2 separate regions of the Homo sapiens genome follow, and region 2 is linked to region 1. The links come from fine-mapping of genetic effects on gene expression. Tissue or cell type: whole blood. Region 1 holds a variant in brackets; the other region holds the start of a gene. All regions are shown on one strand. Distances are between the middles of the regions.

Evidence for each region. PIP is the estimated chance that this variant, and not a neighbour inherited with it, causes the effect.
Region 2: it holds the start of G3BP2, and the variant in region 1 is fine-mapped to the expression of G3BP2 in whole blood (INTERVAL, PIP above 0.99).

Annotation. Positions count from the first base shown.
Region 1 is chr4:75,641,078-75,649,170 of GRCh38, forward strand. G3BP2 (G3BP stress granule assembly factor 2) reads right to left here. Exons shown (of 12, transcript NM_203505.3): 9 at 7,562-7,664; 10 at 5,952-6,080; 11 at 5,261-5,379; 12 at 1,709-4,625. The coding sequence ends at 4,353. Among named protein-coding and RNA genes, the nearest start is that of CDKL2, 15 kb to the left of the region's middle. The variant G/A (reference allele first, on the strand shown) is at 4,098.
Region 2 is chr4:75,669,760-75,677,852 of GRCh38, forward strand. It overlaps G3BP2 (G3BP stress granule assembly factor 2), which reads right to left and starts at 3,652. Exons shown (of 12, transcript NM_203505.3): 1 at 3,449-3,652. RefSeq lists enhancers at 2,532-3,509, 2,942-3,181, 3,462-3,751, 4,488-5,465, 5,466-6,442.

The DNA.
Region 1 (8,093 bases):
AAAACCAGGAGCAGTTAAAATAATATTAATGTCACAAAAGTGAAAGCATTTCAAGGAGGCAGCCAGCTTCATCAAAATTTTAGAGGTCAGCCGGGTGCGGTGGCTCATGCCTGTAATCCCAGCACTTTAGGAGGCTGAGGGGGTGGGGGGCAGATCATGACGTCAGGAGATCGAGACCATCCTGGCTAACATGGTGAAACCGTCTCTACTAAAAGTACAAAAAGTTAGCCGGGCGTGGTGGCACACGCCTGTAGTCCCAGCTACTTGGGAGGCTGAGGCAGGAGAATTGCTTGAACCTGGGAGGTGGAGGTTGCAGTGAGTTGAGATCGCGCCACTGCACTCCAGCCTGGGCGACAGAGCAACACTCCATCTCAAAAAAAAAAAAAAAAAAAAAACTTTAGAGGTCAAAGACAAAGATCAGTTAATTTGGCCATTAACAGAAAGCTAGTAATGTTTCTGTTATTACTTAATTCTGAATCTGCACTTACAGTATTTTGCCCAATATTTGATAATGCTAAAAAGACTTTTGAAAAATTTCGTAAATTCTAAACTTCTTATATTTCCGAAGCATATGAAACATAATGTGTACAGGTACTACATAGATTAAAAGATTTTATTCCTTATCAAAAACTGCCAGAAACTTCATTATTTAGGAACTGATAATGTTGCAAATTATTTTCTATGTGAACATATTTAAATCACAAATTTCTTTCGTGACTTGTTTATCCAGTAATTGTAAATAAATAAAGAGCACTGGCATCAAACTGATCAAAACAGTCTTCTAACTAGGAAGTCTTATAAACACAAAATTAAAAAAAATCAAGGGTCTCTATTGATCTGTAGCTAAAATATAAGTTATGATGAGCAACTCAACCTCTTGAGTGGCTAAGGTTTTCAAATACGTTGTTCATATAAATTCCCGGGACCAAGTAATAATTTGCTCTTTTAAATTTGAACCTATTTTCAACAGTGTGAGATATACATTTTATCCCCTTTAAAAAATGTTTTTCCATTGCCAGAGTTGGATAAATTACATTATAATTAGAAGTCAGTTTACAAAAGGTTTAAGTCTTCCTTCCCCCCTAAGATGAAGCAATGGTTATTCTGGTTTCTCCCCAGTACAAGTTTGTGAAGACTGATTTAGAAATCTTAGAGTGTTATTAATAGCAGGTAAAATTCAACTATATCATCCCCTTTTAGGAAGGAAAAGGTTCAAGTTCTGAAATTACACATGCCTTAGGACCTCATTTTTCATTGAAAGCATGACTAAATATGGCTAATGGTTACATCAATATTTTTGGAGAGCTTGATAAATTAGTTCCAATTTCTGAACTTGAGTCATGTCCATTAACTTCAGGTAACCTCAATCTTCTCATCCCTTCCCTTCTCCTTTCTTGTGAGATGCAAGGCAGAAAATACTTTAGAAAATCCAAGGTTGTAATCTGCTTTAGATCATTCTCATCATTCTTACTACTTATTATTCTAACATTCAACCTGTATACCAGCAGTCTAACTGGACGGAATAGATCTCTTACAATGGTCAAGTGTTACTTAAATGTTTTACTTTTTTTATACGTATCAAATTTCACAAATAAATTGTTTTAAAACCCAACTGCTTATTATTCCCACTTAGTTTGTATGAAATGCAACTGGGAGAAAACATTTGGGAACAATAAAAACTATAGATTAAATTAGGGACATAGATAAATGCTGCAGACATCAGTAGTTTATTGTTTGTTTAGTCCAAACACATTCAATATGGAAACTCAAAGAATACTTTCCACCTGAAACAATTAAACTAGATTCTACTAGCATATAATGCTTAACACATTACAGCAATAAAGATGGTAATCCATTGTCTTCTATACCTACTAAAGCCAAGATGGTAAAGCCAATTTGGTTGCAATAGTGTCATAAGGATAGAATATTACCATCAAAAAATAAAACAAAATCAGCAAATAACAGTAATGGTAGATGAATATTTTTACTCTGTTTCACTGAAAAGAGGACAAAATGTTAAAACTCCACAGTACTGCAGGTGAACAATCACCATGTAAACTTCTCCATATGATGTTTTAATGTTTTATTCATGGTATGTAAAGACTGAAGCTGAATGGCTCTTTGCTCTACTTTTCTATTATTACACTTAACATTTGTCATTACTTTTGGTGCCAGAACAGTTTTCATGGATGGCAGGGCAATATCCTGAATTGGAAATTATATATATATATATATATATGGAAACAGAAATACAAGAAAATATGCTTGGGGGAAAAAAAACATTGACAATAAAACAACTGCTTCTTTAAAAGTAGTATTAATAAAGGCTTCAAAACTCCAAAGTAATTTTCTGGTAAGAATTTCAAGTACTATATCAGAAAGTATAAAACTGTTTCAAACAGAAAAAAAAAAAATCCTTAAGCCCCCCAAAAATGGAAACTATGAAAATCTGTGTCCCCAAAATATATGCAATAGTGCAAGACTTTCCCTCAAACATGGAAGACCTCATTCAAAGGGGGAAAAAGGGACAGATTTTACTCATATTGCCCAGTACATGAAAAACAAAATACATGCATCATTTGCTAGTTTACTAAATAGCAAACAGTTGCATAATTCAGAACCAATTTGCTACTATGTCAAGTGCATATCTTGTCTGTTTTACAAAGATAGAATGGAGAAGTCTTCCATGCTAACGAGCAGCTTTAAGTGGTCACACTTATTTACCCCACTCCTGCCTGAAACATCAGAAACTGGTATGTACTGACTGCTCCAAGCATAAAATTGGATAAGCTTTGCCATACTTGTGGTTTACTGGAACTTGCTATAAAGACAGACAATAATCCAGCAGCTACAAACTTTGCTCACAGAATTGTTTAAAGATTCATGTAAAAATAAAAGATGTCGTCCCAGACTTAAATTCAGGAGCCACTCGGGTGCTGACATCAGTTCAAGAATTGTGCAAAATGAATGACAGTTCCCTGCCCCCCAAATAGAAAATGCAAACACTTAAAGAGCTGCTGTTCTTTTCTCCGAAAATTGCAGTATCCTCACTTCAGGCTTACTTGCCATTTATAGAATCTGACTGCTTTTAAAATGTCACTAAAAATGTACGTCAAGTTGACTGACTTTTCCAAGCCCTGAAGTGATATGTTTCAACGTCCACATTCAGGCTAAGAGAAAAGTCAACTAGAGGCTTACTCAAATAACTGACTTCCTCCTTCCCTCTCCCCACAAACACACAGGACTCCCTCCCTCCCACAGAGAACACAAAGTTGTTAACTGAAGAACAAGATAAATAATATGCTAGTCCATTTTACTGATTTTAAAGATACTGCAATTTTTATACATTTCGATGATTTTTCAACATTTTGCAGCTGTTTGGCTTTGCAGCACAGCAATTCATACACTATACTGTACAAAATTACCAGCAAGACTGGAATGATGTATTAATAGAAGGCACCATCATGCTTATTACATTACCAGAGAACAAAAATACAGTAAAGACAATTTTCACTGTACACAGCTTAAAGAAAGGAAAAAAGGGGAGGAGGAGTGTGTTGAGCAGCCAGCCATCCCTGTACTGAAGAGGGGCAGGTAGAAAAATCTTAGATATGGAGCTACTAAATCTGGTCTAATAGTCAAGACCATCGCATTTGAAGTTCTAATTTTTATTATTTAGTTCATAACTAAAATGATTTCCTTCTGGAATATACTTGTAGTCTTGTTAAGGTTTATGTGTACACACGCTGGTCACAGCAAGCAGATAAAATGCCCTCATCATTTCACAAACTATTTTCTACTGGAAAAGAAGATGAGATTTTTTCCCTGTTGCCTCCTGTTGCAGATGTCAATGTTAATGAGTTCAGAGTACCCATTAGTACATTTTGATGAGTGCATAACAAGTTTCTGTTGGTTTGTATTTTTGGGGGGAGCCAAGAAAAAAGGCAAGATTCTCCAATTGCACAAATTGCACTATTTGTGTTCCCAGCATTAACAGGCAGAAACAGTAACACTTAAACAAAATGTGCAGCAGAAGATTTTTTTTTTACTCAAAGGACCTGAATTCAGTGGGCATGTCCTTTTAAGTTCACTTTGTC[G/A]TAGATAGTTTAAGATATGGTCATTTCTCAGTCCTTAATTCTCCAAGTCTAGATTTATAAATTAACAATGTGAATCCTGTTGTGAAATTGGGGAAATAATGTCCACCTCAATTTAACTGATAACCAAAGATGCTTTTCACATCAAAGAAATGATCAAAAAGGCTGTGTCACATTCCAAAGCCAAAAAAAAAATTAACAAGAATGCAAACACGATGAATAATGTACCACTGCCAAGACTTTGCCAACAGTGGAGCTTCAGCGACGCTGTCCTGTGAAGCGGCCCTCCATTTGCCCGGTTCCTCTTCCAGAGCCAAGTTTCTGTGCCATGCCACCCCTTGGAGGAGGTCCTCTTCCATCACGATCACGCATCATTCCACCACCCACAATTCCACGTGGACCACCGGGACCTCGATCATTGCGCCTAATATCCCTGCGATCATCACCACCACCTCTGGTTTCTCGCTCTCTTGCAGCTCTTGTTTTTTTCTCTTCCACATTTAAACGTACTTCCCCTCGAAACATAATCGGCTTTATAAAAGAGAAGAAAAATATTTACATGGGCAGGTTAGACAGCAATAGAAATGATTACTCTGAACAGGTCAGTCAGATAAGCATAAGGAATAAAACACTTTTATCAGCCCCCCACCCCCCAGAGATAGGGTCTCAGCTGTCACCCAGGCTGGTGACAGCCAGTGGCACAAGCATGGCTCACTGCAGCCTTGACATCCTGGGCTCAAGTGATACTCCCACCTCAGCCTCCTGAGTAGCTGGGATTATAGGTGTCTACCACCATGGCCGGCTATTTTTCTTTTTTTGTAGAGACAATGTCTCACTGTTGCCCAGGCTGGTCTTGAACTCTCCTGGGCTCAAGCAATCCTTCTGCCTTAACTTCCCAAAGTGCTGGGATTACAAGTGTGAGCCACTATACCCAGCCAAAATTCTTAACATGCAATCTTGCAATCTTTCCCACCTTCTTCAGCAAAGCAAGTAACAAAATTTAAAATGATCTGCAAACTAACAAATCTTTATTCTTTGCATAAATACCATTTAATAACTATTTTTAGCTTTATTATTAAAAGATTTTCTATGGTTTTTAAATACCCCAAATTAATATATACAACAGAAATAATAAAGTCTTGAATTATGCCCTTTAAATCACTTACTTTTGCAATTAAGATTCTCTGAACTGGTTCAGAGTCATCAAAAACCACAAAACCAAAATTTGGAAGCTTTCCCCCAACACCCTTGGTATTGATGCGAAGTTCCACAACGTTTCCAAAACCTGTGAAAATATACATTACATCAAGGGTTAAATATTTTTAACAGAATACCTTGATGGCTCTAATTGTTCAGGATGAATATCGTTATCTCCCCGATCCATTTTAAAATAAAACTCGCAAGCTTCTACACACAGTGATAGCCAAGGTACGTTTACTCAAGCAGGCAATCCCCTAAGATACCAAGTAGCCTGCCCGCCTGCTGTGTTACCTTTCTGCATCTTTGGTAGTCCTTTCATAAGTAAAGTTAACTGCATAATTTTGGAAAGACAATGTATTTTCTCCTAATATATTGACCCATTTGCCAAATGAATCCTTTATCTCTGAATTTATGACTGATTTATCCAGCTGTTTCTTCTAAACACTACTGAGCCAGGCCAAATCAACACTAAGCAGTCACTGAGAAACATGTGAGATAAGTCATCTACTCCCTTCTGCACAATTAAGGTGGGTCTGGTAGCTGGACACAGTATAAAGAGAGAAACATTTAAAAAAAATAGTTATTAAAAAAGCTCCATATGCCTCTTGCTTAATTTAAAATAATTTAAAAACTCCAACAGCAAAATAAATCACTTACTCATGAAGAATTCCTTTAGCTCATTTTCATCAATATCATGTGGCAAGTTACCAACAAAAAGTTGATGACTATCTGGATAGCGAATTATTCTACGGTTGTCAGAGTCATTCTGTTCCATATCTCCTCTGCCTGAGAATAGAAATAGAGCAGATACTAAAGTTTACAATATCATAAAAACTACTTCAAAGGAGTGAATGTAAAAATCACTTAATATTGATATTCCTGTTTTAGTTTAATAAGACTAGGTGAGCTTCTTGAAAAAGAGGCAAAAGTACTTATTACTAGTAGGTTAGAAAACAGCATGACACTAAAATGTAAAGTGAGGACAATGACTAGGTTGCTAAAATAGCTTCTTCTAGATCTACTGGATTATACAAAAATCAAATATTAGTACTACAGGTATTCCTCCTTAACCAAACTGTTGCCATCACCCAGGAACCAAGCAGATTTCAGATAGTGAGGTATAGCTTACTAAATATTTGCTTAGTTTTTTGAAATTCAAAATTCTTTGGCTTTATGACATTACAGCAATCAGTAAATTTTAACAGCAATCATCACATTTATGCAGTCTATACATATTAAGTGTGTATGTATATAGATATACATAAAATCTTATTTGATTCTCCCAATAACACAAGGAACACAGTGAGGAAAATAGGCAATACAAGAATAATTTGTGTAATATTTGACATAAAAGAAGCTCAGAATTTAAGGGTTTCACTCAAGATCCCAAGTTTAATCACTGACAAATTTAGGACTTCTAGTTTGGTAACATATCACTTTAAAAATTCACATTGTAAATGTGATATATACTATCTCCATCTCTCCCATCTCCTCCCCAAAGCAATCTAAACATTCTTACAGAGTTCAAATAAAAGTATTACATGTGTAGCTAACAAGGTAAACAAGTCAAAAATCATGGCAACTTACTTAATACCTAAGAATCAAAATGGGCTTATTGTTTATCTGTAAAGAGATAAGACTGCTAAGAGAGTAGGTTATTGGCAGCTTGGTTTTGAACTCTTAAAACCAGTGACTAGGCCGGGCACAGTGGCTCATGCCTGTAATCCCAGCACTTTGGGAGGACGAGTAGGGCAGATCATGAGGTCAGCAGATCGAGACCATCTTGGCCAACATGGTGAAACCCTGTCTCTACTAAAATACAGAAAATTAGCTGGGCCTGGTGGCGTGTGCCTGTAATCCCAGCTACTTGGGAGGCTGAGGCAAGGGAATCATTTGAACCCGGGAGACAGAGGTTGCAGTGAGCTGAGATCACGCCATTGTACTCCAGCCTGGCGACAGAGCAAGACTCCGTCTCAAAAAAAAAACAAACAAACAAAAAAAAAAAACAAAAAACCGTGACAATAACCAAATAAGACTTAAGTCTTTTACACCTTCAAAATATGTCACCATGGCATGTCAACCAATCCTCCCTAAAAATTGGTTATTTGGCCCCAGACACTATTTAGCAGGTTGCTCACATCACATCTTTAAGCAATTTGAGACTATATGGGTCTGTGTATAGAACGCATCATAGTTTTTTGTTTAAGTTCAGTCTTTTACAGCCTTACAAATGTTAAATGCTAAAGGCTATAAAGGAGCTGACTCACCTGGTCTTGGTCCTCTAGGAGGAAAACCAGGTCGTTCTCTAGGTCGTTGTTCACGCACACGAGGTGGCTGAGATTGAACTTCTGGTTTAGCTTCGACTCTTGGCTAAAATATAAAGAAAAAAAAACATTATAAAAAACACTCCACTGGAGAAAAACCAACCAAAGCACCTAACGACAAGTCACTAGCAGACATAACAGTAGTTTTAAGTTTAGAATGTTTTTAACATAGTGTCCTATGTATGAGAAAAATAAATTTTTATCAAGATATTCTGTACCAATCTAGGACTGTAGGTAGCTTTTGTTTTCCCACTTAATGCTGTGTAACTCACAATAAGTTGCTTTTTACAGTCACATTTTTTCATTAAAGTTATATCAACACTGAAATAGCATAAAAGGTATTGCTACCAAAAAAAAAAATCACAAAAATGCAAGATGAACCACTCCATGTAAATACATAAACAAAATTAAAAGCCATCTTCATCTTAGACAAGAATACATAACACATAATTTCTGAAAATCTAATTTGCTATCC
Region 2 (8,093 bases), 29 kb after region 1:
ATTTATTTTATGGCTACTATGTATGTACCAGAAACTACAAAAGGAAAAAGAGGCCGGGTGCAGTGGCTCACGCCTGTAATTCTAGCACTTCGGGAGGCCGAGATGGGTGGATCACCTGAGGTCAGGAGTTCGAGACCAGCCTGACCAACATGGCAAAACCCATCTCTACTAAAAACACAAAAAAGTTAGCCGTGTGCAGTGGCGGGCGCCTGTAATCCCAGCTACTCAGGAGGCTGAAGCAGGAGAATCGCTTGAACCCGGGGGCGGAGGTTGCAGTGAGCTGAGTTGTAAGTACTTGGTATTAGTTATTATAAAAAGAATAAGACCTCTAGTAATAGGAGGCAGTTCTCTTTACCAGATACTGTTACCAAAGGTTATGTGGGTGCTAAGACACAGCTTATCTCCACTATAGGATACTTACCCCTTTCCCCTCTGGAGTCCCTCACTCATAGCTGGGCTCAAACTAGTCAGGTTTATTTATTTTAATTGAACCATGGACTATATCCATTTCCAACAGCTAAATGCATATTAATACTGGAACTTTCTGAAATTCCAGATGGTTTTTGTTTGAAGTAACTTAAACAATCTAAGGAACACTATACCTTTTTAAAGAAATGACCTTCAATCTTTTGTGGTACACCATTGAATGAAAGCTTCACAAAGAAGATCTAAGAATCATAGTGGTACAAATAAATAATAAAAGTAAGTTATGGATTAAATCTCTTATTCAGGCTCCAAAAGGTGTTTTTGTTTTCTGTCCTTCTCAGAAGTTGAGGGAGGCTAGTTTTAAAATTCAGAAGCTATTAAAAGTGACCAAGCAGTAAGAAATGGAAATGCTTGCTGTCCACAAAAATAAAGCATGTATTTATACTATGTTTTAAAGTTTAACAAGTAACCTACTATTTTCTTTTGTCTTTAAAATAGATAGGGCATTATCTTCATTTACAGAAAAGGATGTTTAGAGAGCCTAAGGAAAGGTGTTTGGGGTTCCTCAGTTACAGTAAAAAGAAAGAGGATTTGAAATCAGGTCTCCTGACTCCTGACTCAACTGATGTTTTCATTACACTTTGGTTAGGAACAACCGCTTTGGAAGAGCAGCCAGCTCTTCCAACAATACAAAAAATTAATTTTAAACAAGCAATTGTTAGCTTATGTGAAACTGTTGAGAAGAGTGAAAAGCAAAGGAATACAGCAGGACAGCAACAGAAAATCCAAGAATAATTTTCAATATACCTATGGTTTCAAGATAGGGTAAAATACTTGGAAATTAGCAGATAAAAGTAAGCAGAAACACGACAGTCAAGAAACTAATTCTATTGCTTCTGAAGGTAGGCCAGGACCTTCCTGAAGGTGGGTGGACCAATTTATTCTATCGGATATAAAACAAGTGTCTACCAGTGGAGAGTAACTAGGTCATGTTTGTCCATTAAATTCTACTGAATTTAAGTTCAGACGCAACACTTTAGTTTGTGCCTTTCAAAATCAACATTGAAAAGGAGTCATTCACTGTCTCCATATTCACTCAAAATATGTGGAAAGTCTTTTTAAAGCAATCTAGGGGGAAAATGTTCAATCCTAATTATGCGTAATAAACAGCGATAATTTTGCAGGATAAGGAGGGAAGTTTTCAGAATCTAAAGACACAGTGCCAACACTTTCTTCAAACCAGGAGTTGCCTGCTGACAAATCAACTGCTCAGCTGCTAACTGAACAGTTAAGTTAGTTACTCTACGAAATGGTCAAATAATGTGTTTTCTTCTTTACCTTCTAATTTTTATCCCCATCCATCCCACAAGCATTCTGGTTCACTCTTGATGTTTTTTCACTATTACTAATATTTCGACCCTGAATATCAATCTGAACTATGACAGCTCTTAGTAAGAAATTCATTCTAGGTCCTTATTATTCCTACAATTCCTTGACTGCTTTTCAGAATTAGTTTGTAAAGATTAAATCATAACATAAAGGCCCATAAGAGTAATCTTAAACATTTAAGAAAAATGTTACTGCCAAAGAAAGGATAATTCAATCCTGAGGTTCAAACTCATCGTACCGTTTATCTCCTAAGACCAGGAATCTTGGATTATCAAAAAGACCACTGGATGCTAACAGGGCCAAAAGTTTACTTAGAAACTTGGTTCACATGCCTAAGGCTATATTAACTGCCAAATATGGAGCTAGAGAAAAATTGCCATCATCTCCCACTCTAGTACACCGGGGCTCTCTTAACGACAGTTAATGTTTCCTAGATCCAGGTACCTGCAACACTAACGTTTGAAAGACCAGAACAAGGTACAGAGCCTTGAACCTAAAACCACAGTATCTTAATCCAAGTTAATATCCCACAACAATCATACAGGGAGAACAGGACTTTACTATTCCAGCTAAAAGTGCAAGTGCCTTTTTTTTGTTGTTGTTATGAAGGAAAAGGCACTCTCCTCCCACCCCCCAAATCCGTTAGAACATTAAGTATGTCTTGGGGAAAAAAGCTGATCTATGCAGGAAATTATAGACGAAAATCTATATTCGCCCCAAAGCGGCAAAGGGCCATCTTAAGAAATCTGCTTTTAGAGACGCAGGAAAAATTCTATCAGATTCCACTAACAAAATCAACACAATCTAGGGAAGCTTCTGTTCCTTTCTGTCCCCCCATCCCAACAAAAGCGGGAACCCATCCCCCAAAAGCCATTCCCGAGTCAATAAGGGATCGTCTGCATAAGAGGGGGACGAAGAAGGCGCACGTTACAGTTCCAGTATCCGAACACGTTCGGATTAAACCCGCGGTGGCAGGGAGAGGGGGGTTGGTCAAACACGACGGAACACTAGGTACTGGGTAAGCGAAGCGGCGGCTGCCTTCAAACCCGGATTCTGTTTCCGTGCACAGAAATGGTGCCCGGAGGCCGCCACTTTCGCATCTGCGTCGCTTCTGCCTCCGTCGACACAACCTCTTTTCCCCTCCCCCCACGGGCGGGGTGGCGACGGCCTCTCCGCTCCGAAGGAACAAGGTACAAGAGCCGAAAACGATTCGGAAACAGGAACGGTGGGCTACCCACCCTAAAACATCCCCTCCAGAAAGCCTGCTCCCACACTTCCTGTATTAAGCTTCCATCAGCGCGCCTTCGGGAGCTGCTGCGTGCCTCCCCCCCCACTTCGCCACCTCATCCCCAATAAACCTCAACCCCACCTGTGCACTCGGAGCCCTCTGCCCGCAAGACGCTCGCGGGTCACCTCCCTTCCCAGGCGGCCTCCCACCCCTCACCTAGAGGAAAGACTGGTCTTCTCTCACGCACACACGGCACCGTAGGGAGCCGGCAAGAACAATGTCTCTGCCGCTACACCTCCGGCTCCCGGGCTCACACACCGGACGATTGCCTCGCGCCGCGGAGCGCGAATGGAATGTCCCTTTCCGACCACCACACCGACCTCCCCTCCCGGCGCCCGTACACACCTCCAGCCAACGGCGGCGGCGGGTACGTCGCGCGGAGGTCAGAAGAGTCGCTGAGGACCGGGTGCGGCGGGTTCTTATTGCTCGCCGCCCCCTTCCTCCGACAACTCGGAAGCCTCGGAAGCCGGAGAGCCGCGAGTTCGTCTGCCTCACAACCACCTCTTCCCGGGCGCCAGGCGCTGCGACGTGCGACAAGGACCACGGACGTCCCGCCCCCTTTGCCACCGCCCCCTCTTATTGTTTTACCCCTGCCGAAAGGGCCAGGGAACCCCCGAGCACAGCGTCAGCCAATCACGCATCTCCTCCAGAGCCGGACCCAACCTTCCCGTGTCCCTCTGCGGAGCACGCGCAGTACGCTGCCGCGCTCGCACACGCTCGCGCCCGGAAAGCCGGGGAACCGGAACCGGCCTAAAGCCAAGATAAGAGTCCGCTGATTTGACGTCACAAGCAGGCTGCCTTTCTCCGGTCCCGAGGCTCCAGCCTTGCCGCCCTTCTTCCTGATCGCGCAAGCGAGAGCTGGTTCGCAGCAACGCAGTGTCTTTTGTAGACTGATATTCTGGTCCTTTTTATTAATGGGAAGGAGGGAATTTAGTAATCTCTCTGAATAGGTGTCTGCAGGTTGCTGCTGTAGACGAGCTTAAAATGCAGCCGGTGATTTCAGCTGTTTGCACACTAAACTCACCTACATTGTTTACTTAACCCATCCTAGGTTTTAAGCCCCATTAAGAGGCCCTGCAGTAAAGGAAGAACATGACGTGGGCTTTACAGAGGGGGAAAAGACTATTTCTTTGTGTCCTTGTTACGAATTTAGGCATGGCTAAATATCAGTAGATACTAAAGCATTTTACATACTAAAGCTAAAAGAAGGCCTGAAATACAAGGATTACAGTCCTGTTCTAGCTCTAAGCCCAGACTTGCCCCCAGGGTGAGACACTGGTGACCTTGTTTCATGGACAAAGCCAAGCCAAATCTTGTAGTCAAGGAAGCCACTTTGCATCTTAGGTCTGGCAGTGTTTTCAGAGAATACCGAGATAGCACAGGAATTTTGGAATGAAGGACTGAGGAAGTGTTCAAAGAAACGGAAAGGAAAAAATACATTAATGAATGCTTACGAACTAAACATGGTGGACGCAAGCATGTACATCTCATCAGTTTTCTTCGCAATCCTGTAAGGGCAATTTTAAGGTATTTGGCATGTTAAGACAATACGTCAAATACCTTAAATATTGGCAGAGGCAATGCCAACATTAGGGCCTCCAAAGTCTACAATATCTTTACCTTTAGACTGCTTAAAGATACTGTTATATGCAAAATATTTGGGCAGACCATCACTTTAATGAAATCAACCTGATGTTTTTCCTTAAAGCATCAAAATACATTACATGCCGGCTGTCCTTTAATATACTGGGCTTATATACCAGGCATTCTTGTAATTATACAGCCTTCTGAGCCTCACAGTAACCCTATGAGCTAGTTGCTATATGTATGTACATATATATATATATATATATATATTTTTTTTTTTTTTTTTTTTTTAAGATGGAGTCTCTCTGTGTCGCCCAGGCTGGAGTGCAATGGCACGGTCTTGGCTCACTGCAACCTCCGCCTCCCGGGTTCAAGCGGTTCTCCTGCCTCAGGCTCCCTAGTAGCTGGGACTACAGGCGCATGCCACCACACCCAACTAATTTTTATATTTTTAGTAGAGACGAGGTTTCACTATGTTGGCCAGGCTGGTCTCGAACACACCTGACCTCGTGATCCGCCCGCCTTGGCCTCCTAAAGTGTTGGGATTACAGGCGTGAGCCACCGCACCCGGCCAGTAGTTGCTATTTTTATGCCCATTTTATAGATGAGAAAACAGGCTTGGAGAGGTCAAGTAACTTACCCAGGACTACACTGCTACTATTCACTGGAGCTGGGATTCAAACACAGGCAATCTGCCTCCACAGTCCATACCCTCAGGCAAACTATAGAATACTCCCATTGTACTAATTGCCGCAATTCACTTATCTGCCCTACTGCTGACTAACCTTCAAGTGTTTCCGGTTTGGAGCTCTTCCGTGCAATGCTATTATAAATATTCTTCACCATGTATCCTGCAGAGGTGCAGAACTTTCTCTAGAGCAGTGGTTCTCAGACCTTAATGTGCACCGAAATCACCTGTAGGGCTTGTTAAAACAGATAGTTGGGCCCCACTCCCTAAGTTTCTGATTCAACAGAGGCCCGAGAATTTGCACTTCTAACAAGTTCTCAGCTGATGGTGCTACTGCTGCTCTAGGAGCCACACTTTAAAAACCACTGATATAGGCCGGGCGCGGCAGCTCACGACTGTAATCCCAGCACTTTGGAAGGCCGAGGGGGGCGGATCACCTGAGGTCAGGAGTTTGAGACCAGCCTGACCAACATGGAGAAACCTCGTCTCTACTAAAAATACAAAATTAGCCGGGCGTGGTGGCGCATGCCTGTAATCCCAGCTACTCGGGAGGCTGAGGCAGGAGAATCGCTTGAACCTGGGAGGCGGAGGTTGCGGTGAGCTGAGATCGCGCTATTGCACTCCAGCCTGGGTGACAACAGTGAAAACTCCGTCTCAAAAAAAACAAACACCACTGATCTAGGGCAGAGGTGGGCAAACGGTTTGATAAGGGAAGGATTAGATAGTAAATATTTTTGGTTTTGAGCGCCACGTATGGTTTCTGTTGCATATTCCTCTCTCTCTCGCATCCTTTAAAAATTTAAGAAACATTTTTAGTTTAGCTCTAGAGCTACACAGAAACAGCCCTCAGGTAACCCTGCTCTTGAGTAGACACCAATAAGTGGAGTTAATGGGAAAAAAGATTCAGCGATCTTCAATGTTAAGTAAATATCTCTAACCTATTCTAACTGGCGATTTTTACCTCATAAACATATCTCTACACAAATAGCCCCTGCCCAGGTTCAGGCCCCTTCATCTTCCCAGGAAGACTGCAGTGGCCTCCTAACTAATCTCCCTGCCTCTCAAACATAGCCTCCATGAAGCAATGTCCACCTCCTATAGACTAGGCAGGGAGACCAGTGTGAACGGTATTCATTCGGTGGCTCAGGCCAAAAACCTCTTTTTCTCACACCAATTTATTGACAGCCAATTGCCAATAATTTTTTTTTTTTTTTTTTTTTTTTGAGATGGAGTCTCGCTCTGTCATCCAGGCTGGAGTGCAATGGCATGATCTGGGCTGACTGCAACCTCCACCTCCCAGGTTCAAGCCATTCTCCTGCCTTGGCCTCCCAAGTGGCTAGGACTACAGGCATGTGCCACCACGCCCATCTAATTTTTCTATTTTTAGTAGAGACGAGGTTTCACCATGTTGGCCAGGTTGATCTCGAACTCCTGACCTCAAGTGATCCACCCACTTCGCCGAATTGTCAATACATTTCTGTTCCCTCTACCTTCAACATTTATTCTGGATTAAATACTTTGCATCACTGTTACTGCTGCTATAGTAGTCCAGGCCACCATTGCCTATTGCAATAGCTTTCTACTTGGCCTCAATGCTTCCACTCTTATTCCACTACAGTCTGTTCCCCTCACAGCAGCCAGATCTTTCATAGTTATAATTGAGATGGTCCCAAAACCTTTAAAAGGCAACACAAAATCTCAGGTCCTTACCATGGCCTACAAGGCCTACCTGATCTAGTCCTTACCTATTACTTCCATTTCTTTTCTTACCACTGGTTTTCTCACACCACCCCAGCCAGCTCTTCCTTTGACATTCTCATCACATTACCACCCCAAGGCCTTTAATGTGAACCTTTATCAAAACACTGTGAAAAATAAAAGTAAATGAATCAGACCCAATCACCATTAGCAGGTAAATTTTTAAAAGTAAAATTACTAGAATTATATTACCTGATTCCTGATTTTTATTATAAACTTCAGCATAAAATACTTAGATAAGTATTTGAATAAGATAAGACATTTGAATTTATAAAGCTTTTCCTCTACACCCTTTCATTTGACCATTCTCAACTTTACTGAATACTAAAAGATCAACCAAGTCCATTATCACCACTTTTGCTGATGAAGTAGGTGTATACGAGATGACTACATGCGGCTGGGCGCAGTGGTTCACGCCTGTAACCCCAACACTTTGGGAGGCCCAGGTGGGTGGATCACGAGGTCAGGAGTTCGAGACCAGCCTGGCCAACATAGTGAAACCCCGTCTCTACTAAAAATACAAAAATTAGCCAGGCATGGTGGTGCGCACCTGTAGTCCCAGCTACTGGGGAGGCTGAGGCAGGAGAATCACTTGAACCCAGGAGGCGGAGGTTGTGGTAACCCGAGATCGCACCACTTCACTCCAGCCTGGGCAACAGAGCGAGACTCTGTCTCAAAAAATAAAAAATAAAAAAAAAAAGAGATGACTACATGCATGTTTAGGGGTCACACACCCCACATAAATAAGGTTTATGAAGACCAAGCATTGGAAGGGAGTAAAATCCAAGTCCTTAAGGGAAACGCATTTTTCTTGGAAAGTGTCTTTACTCACCATGTTTTTAAACTTTTAAGGCTTGCAAAACAAATGTCTTGGCCCCACTACTAATTCAGTTAGGAAGGATGATGCTGTGGATTGAATGTATGTGCCCCTCCAAAATTCATGTTGAAACTTAATCT